2 separate regions of the Homo sapiens genome follow, and region 1 is reported to be linked to region 2. The links are microRNA targets in miRTarBase. Many come from high-throughput screens and were not tested one by one. Region 2 holds a microRNA gene; the other region holds the end of a gene's coding sequence.

Region 1 (3,410 bases), not on the chromosome of region 2:
CTGGAAAATCTCTTGAGCCTGGGAGGCAGAGGATGCAGTGAGCCAAGATCATGCCACTGTCCTCCAGTTTGGGTGACAGAGCGAGACTCAGTCTCAAAAAAAAAAAAAAGAAAGTGAGGAAGGCAGAATTGAGCAGAGTGAGAAGCTGCATTCAGTGAGGTTGCAACCAACGTAGAGTTTTGGAGCTGGGATGCCCTGCCGTTCAGCACTGTTCCAAATTGAGGCAAGGGACCTTTGTTTTCCTACATCAGTCATTCTCAAGGTGAAGGGAGTGTGATTTTGCTCCCAAGGAGGTGTTTGGCTGTCACACTGGGAAGCAGGGGTGATGAGTGCCCACTGCAGCATTCATTAGAGGCCAGAGATGCTGTTTAGCATCTACAATACACAAGACAACCCTGCCCCACAACAAAGAACCATCCAGCTCAAATGTCCATAGTGCTGAGATTGAGAAACTCTGCCTACATCAAGGAGCCACTGGCCACGGGCTGCTCTTGCAAGGGTATGCCCTTGGGCAGATCCCAGCAGCTTAGGGCAATTCCCAGTGTGGCGTGTGGCTGTGAGCAGTCAGCAGCTCATGTTCCCAACAGATTGGAAATGGGTGTGTTTGCCATGGAGAGAGGATCTCAGCAGAGCAGAGTCACTCTCTGGCCCCTCAGACTGCTCTTTCTTATGTTATAAAAATAATGACCTACCATATTTAGGACCTGATATAGTTTGGATATTTGCTTTGCTCAAATCTCAGTGTTGAAATGTAATCCCCCATGTTGGAGGTGGGCCTTGGCAGGAGGTGATTGGATAATGGGGATGGATTTCTCATGAATGGTTTAGCACCGTCCTGTTGATGCTGTCCTCATGATAGTGAGCTCCCATGAGAGCAGGTTGTTTAAAAGTGTGTGGCAAAAAATATAAAAAATAAAAATAAAAAAGCATATAATAGGCCAGGCGCGGTGACTCACGCCTATAATCCCAGCACTTTGGGAGGCTGAGGCAGGCGGATTGCCCGAGCTCAGGAATTCAAGACCAGCCTGGGCAACATGGCAAAACACTGTTTCTACTAGAAATACAAAAAATTAGCTAAGCATGGTGGCACATGCTTGTAGTCCCTGCTACTCGGAGGCTGAGGCACCAGAACCTAGGAGGGGGAGGTTGCAGTGAGCCGAGATCGTGCCACTGCACTCCAGCCTGGGCGACAGAGCAATATTATCTAAATATATATATATATATATATTTAAATATATATATTCAAATGTATATATTTAAATATATATATTCTTTCTATATATAGATAGATATAGATCTCTATCTATAGAGAGAAACAAAAATAAAATAAATAGAAGTCTGTGGCACCTGCCTCAGTCTCTCTTGCTCCTGCTCTAGCCACGTAAGACATGTCTGCTTCTCCTTCGCCTTCTGCCATGATTGAAAGTTTCCTGAGACCTTCCCAGAAGTCAAATAGCTGTCAGCGCCTTGTTTCCTGTACAGCCTACAGGACTCTGAGCCAATAAAACCTCTTTTCTTTATAAATTACCCTGTCTCAAGTATTTCGTTATAGCAATGCAAGAATGACCTAATACAAGACTCTATCCTGTAGGCTTTACATATATTATCTCGTGTAAGCCTCATAAAAATCCCAAGAGGTAGTTTTCATCGCCCCATTTTATAGTATGGGAATCTGAGACTTAGAGAAGGTTAATCACTCACCTAAGATTACTGAGCTTGTCAGTTACAGGACCAGAATTTGAATCCAGGACTGTCAGCCTTCAATCTCTGGCTTTTTTGCAAATAGGAGGGACAACATTTGCTAAAACAAGAGCAACACTCATAGGAGAAGGAGGAGGATGAACTACAAGCTTAGCCTGGAATGAACATAGAGCCCAGGCTCAGAGCAGCACAAAGCCCTGAAACAATGTCTGATACTGTGCGAACATTCTAAGGCCAGACCTGAGCTCAGGATTCCTGGAGAGAAGCCTCCTGCCACCTTCCTATCCACAAATATTAATGGGTTATGAAAAATAAGCCCTCTCACCAGGAGGACTTTTCTTTTTTCCCTCCTCAAGGAGAATATATGGACCTTTAGACTTTATATGGTGACAGTAATTATAAAAAAGGGGAAAAAAAACCACTTTCTGGTAGTCAATTGTATAAAAATAATTTTATTTACTACTGTAAATAAAGTAGTGCAAAGAGTAGTTTGGACCCACAATATTGCATTACTGATTTATTCACTACCTTAGCAGCATGTAGTATACAGACATTCTGCTCTTCCTCTTCCTCTCTAACACACACACACACACACACACACACATATCCCTGTACAGACTCACGCAGGCATGAGGGGTAGGGATGAAACTATAAGCTAGAGGCTTACTTGCTGCATATTCCGTTGCTGCCAGTCTATTCTAACGTGTAATTCATGGAGAAGACTACAGTTAAGTACTAAGAATCTTCTAAATGTAATTTCATGGATTGCAATTGAAATGTAAAAGATATCCGACAATGCCATTAAATGATTCGGAAGCACTAGGACCCTAGAAAAATTCAAGGAGAAAAATGTAAACCAATTTACAAAGCTATTGCCCTCCCTGCATTTCCAGGCACAAACAATTTATTTCAAGGTGCCTTATAACTGCTAGGTCTTGGAAGTCAAAGAGAAATCTATCAATTCAGCTTTGAGGAACAGGGCTGTGGCAAGCACAGGTACCAAAATATTATCCACCTTGTAGAGTAGTCATAATTTTCTGTTCTTCAATAAAGGGATGAAGCACGCACTGTGATTCTTAAGACACATCTTAGTGTATAAGAATCCAGATCTGCCGTAGGGCATGCTATGACTCCTAATACATACAATCACTAGAACAAAAGTCTGTGATGGCCCAGTAAACTTCCCCACATGCCCTATGATCAAGATGTTCCTTGTATGTGTTTGATGACCTTTGGTATTACCACTGCCTGATCTGGGTACTTCCTTGTAATTTGACTTTAAAAAAAATGACACCAATTGCAAAATTTGCATCCAGTTGACAAGACATTTAAGGTGTTTATCAGGATCATGCCCTGGCCCCAGCTTCCCAATACCAGCTGTTGAAAAGATTCTCTCTCATCTGGAGAGAACTGGAGTGCACAGTTCACCCACGTGGCTCCGGGTTATTAGTTACTGTGGGCTGGTCTTGGTCAGAGGCATCTGCAGCTGGAGTCACAGCTGGACTTGCAGTGGACGTGGCAGTGTCTGGGGAGGCCTGGGATGGTCTTGGAGGGGGATCGCTTGCTGCAGAGACACATGCACAACAGGTGCTGAATACTCAAAACAGTGCATTCAGAATGTACAACCACACCTAGAGACTCTGGCAAGCCAGGAGAGATGCATCTAGTCTAATGAACCTGACACTAACTAGCCAGGCAACTCTGGACCC
Region 2 (3,410 bases):
GACATTTGTCAGACACCACCTTCCTGAGACAGAAGTCCCATGCCCCTAAACCTGATGATGCAAAGGGGAAAAAGCTAGCCACCAATCCTATGATACCTACCTCGAAGTTCCCGTGGTTGCAGGAAAGAAGGCTGCCCCGGACTCCAATTCTGTTCTGCTATATTTAGTTGTGCCACATCTTGCTCAAGTCCACTTGTACTAGAATCCACCGGAGCTTCCCAGGTCCCAGTCTTAGTAGGTGGAGTTGGGGTGGTTTCTGGGACTGGAGGTGCTGGAATCAGTCCTTCAGGAGGAGGGGGCACCTCCTCTGCAAGCTTGACTGCATCTCCAACTTTGGTTCGAGTTCTTCTTGCCCGGGAATAGGATTTCTTCTCAATGGGCCTATCAGGGGGTGGTGGTGCAGCATCAGGAGCAGCAGCTGGTGGCTCTGAGGCTGCCTCTTCCTTCTCAGGACTGCCAAGCACTGGAGCATCTGCTTCTGGAGATGGATCCCTCACAGAAGTCTGCTCTAGGCGCCGTGACCGGTAACTAATCTCATGCTTAACAGTCTCACCAGACCGGCCACCATGCTGCCCACCAGCTTCCACAGGCCTAAAACCAGCACGACCTTCCTTGAAGCCCCCAGATCGAGAATAATTCCTGGGTGCAGACATACGGCCGGTACCTGCAGCATTCCTGTTAATAAATGTCCTTGGTGGTAGGGTGCCCCCAAGACCCTGGTGGCGATGAGACTTGTTTAGCCGCTCACCGTTCCAGTTTGGATCTCTTTGTGGAGGACTCCCATATCTACAAAAAATGGAATGAAGAAACTGTTAGGAAATTAACAAAAGGAGGCTACGCGCGGTGGCTCAGGCCTGTAATCCCAGCACTTTGGGAGATCGAGACGGGCAGATCACTTGAGGCCAGGAGTTCAAGACCAGCCTGGCCAACATAGCGAAACCTCATTTCTACTAAAAATACAAAAATTAGCCGATCGCGATAGTACGCGCCTGTAATCCTGGCTACTCAGGAGGCTGAAGCAGGAGAATCACTTCAACCCAAGAGGTGGAGGTTGCAGTGAGCCGAGAACATGCCATTGCACTCCAGCCTAGGCAACACAGCGAGACTCTGTCTTAAATAAATAAATAAAAAGAAAAGCAAAGAGAATTCTTTCTAAAAGATATCAAGAGTCTACACTCTATTTTTTTTTTCCTTTTTTTCTTTTTTTTTTTGGAGACAGGGTCTCACTATGTTCCCCAGGCTGGTCTTGAACTCCTGGCCTCAAGCAATCCTCCTGCCTCAGCCTCCCAAAGTGCCGGGATTCCAGGTGTAAGCCACCGTAAGCCACCATACCCAGCCTGGTCTTATGTTCTAAAATGTCCTCACCGGGGTTTCCGGATTCTTCGAGGTTTGATGTCATCAGGATTATGAGCTGAGCGAATGTCATAACCATAAAGAGCAATGAGCTCCTGTCGGGACTTTGGGGCCTGCTCATCTTCCCGGAACTTGTCATGCTCCCAGCGACCCTCATCCTTCCATAGCTTTCGCTGACGCCCCTTGGGTCTGGATAAAATGAAGGAAAAGTGTCTTGGGTCAGCAGAATTCTCCAAGTAGAGATGTTCTTGAACAAAATGGGTCAGGGAGGCAGGGGGACAATAGGAACTTTACGTAGTCTCCTCATCATCCCAAAGAGATTATAAAAAACAGGCCTCCCCAAAGCAAGCGTGAATCACAGAACCTCAGGGCCTGCTGGGCTCAAATATAACAGACACAGAAATGAGAAAAAGACTTCATTTCATGCCATTCAGTACCTTTGAAACATCTCCTTTCTCCTAAAAGGCAACCTATGCAAGTATTTCACTTCTCAGACGCCTTACACCTCAGACTAAGAAAAGCAAAAGTATAATAATTAAGAGAAGATGAGTTCTGGAAACAAACTGTCCTAGGTCTGTATCTTAGCTGCCTCACCAAGAGTTACCAAATATTCTAAGCCTACTTTCCTCATTTGTACGATAAGGATAATCATAATACTTATCTTAAAATGCTGTAATAAATGAAATACAGGCAAATCGAAGTACCTGGCCTACATGTGTAAAATACATGTTAGACAGCAGCAGCAGCAAGTGGCTTTTACCTGACTTCCTCCTCCTGAGTTTGCCCTCGAAGATCATGCTCAAAGAAGAGCCCTTTCCGAGGTATGTATGCTGGATTCTTCCGATCTTCATCATCATCCAAATGCTTAGGGCCCTTTTTACCCACTTTGTTCTCCACAGGCTCTGTGCTCTCCTAGAGGACAGATAAAGGGATCCTTACTCTTCCAAGCCTCAAGAATCTCTATTCCAGCCTCTAAAATGGAGGACTGTGGAATGTACTAACCTGTCCGTCCCCACTTTGCCTCTCTCCAGTCACAGTGCTTTTGGTGTCAGGCTTTTCTTCTCCCTTCTCTTCTTTTGTTGAAGAATTAACAGCATCATTAGCTTCTGATTTCAGCTCCACTTTGGAGTTTTCCTCTTCACTGTATTCACCTTCTTCACCCTGAAAAAAGTTTCCCTGTCAGCGATGCATATAAGATCTGAACGGTGCATTTTAATTCCCACCCCTGCCCCCAACCCCAAAACAAAGTCTCTGTCACCCAGGCTGGAATACAGTGGCACAATCTCAGCTCACTGTAACCTCTGCCTCCAGGGGTCAAGCAATTCTCCTGCCTCAGCCTCCTAAATAGCTGGGATTATAGGCGCCCACTACCGCGCCTGGCTAATTTTTGTATGTTTAGTAGAGACCAGGTTTCACCATGTTGGCCAGGCTGGTCTTGAACTCCTGATTTCGTGATCTGCCTGCCTTGGCCGCCCAAAGTGCTGGGTTTATAGGCGTGAGCCACCGTGCCTGGCTGCATTTCAATTTTCTACTCTTTAGGAATACATTTATCAATAAATTTTTAGTACAACATAGAACTGAAAAGCAAACAAATCAATATTCTTACCCATATTTCTAGAAAATAAAGATCCTATTTTGGCCTGGCACAGTGGCTCACGCCTGTAATCACATTTTGGGAGGCCAATGCAGGCAGATCACCTGCGGTCAGGAGTGTGAGACCAACCTGGCCAGCATGGCAAAACCCCATCTCTACTAGAAATATAAGAATTAGCCGCACTTGGTGGTAGGCACCTGTAATCCCAGCTGCTCGGGAGGCTGAGGCAGGAAAATCGTTTGAACCAGGGAGGCAGAGCTTGCAGTGAGCAGAGACTGCGCCACTGCACTTCAGCCTGGGCGACAGAGCAAGGCTCTGTCGCAAAAAATAGTAATAATAAAAAAAAGACACTATTTTAAAAATATCACATTAAAAAAAATACACACATACATACATATATATCCACATAGGTATTCCTGGAACATATGCAAGAATTATTAAAAGTGGCAGGCTGGGCGCAGTG

The links. Region 2 holds the annotated microRNA hsa-miR-6866-3p (GAUCCCUUUAUCUGUCCUCUAG, at 2,266-2,287, opposite strand). A microRNA usually pairs through its seed, bases 2 to 8, with sites in the 3' UTR of a target mRNA and lowers its output. Matches are read on the target gene's strand: a 7mer-m8 pairs with bases 2 to 8, a 7mer-A1 pairs with bases 2 to 7 and ends in A, and an 8mer does both.
Region 1: miRTarBase lists SEL1L3 as a target of hsa-miR-6866-3p. Seed matches in the 3' UTR shown: 7mer-A1 at 2,306-2,312.

The regions. Positions count from the first base shown.
Region 1 is chr4:25,745,300-25,748,709 of GRCh38, forward strand. It overlaps SEL1L3 (SEL1L family member 3), which reads right to left. Exons shown (of 24, transcript NM_015187.5): 24 at 2,134-3,265. The coding sequence ends at 3,126. Among named protein-coding and RNA genes, the nearest start is that of SLC34A2, 91 kb to the left of the region's middle.
Region 2 is chr17:40,160,857-40,164,266 of GRCh38, reverse strand. MIR6866 (microRNA 6866) reads right to left here and starts at 2,334; the gene lies at 2,266-2,334. CASC3 (CASC3 exon junction complex subunit) reads right to left here. Exons shown (of 14, transcript NM_007359.5): 4 at 2,356-2,514; 5 at 2,114-2,265; 6 at 1,366-1,542; 7 at 101-786.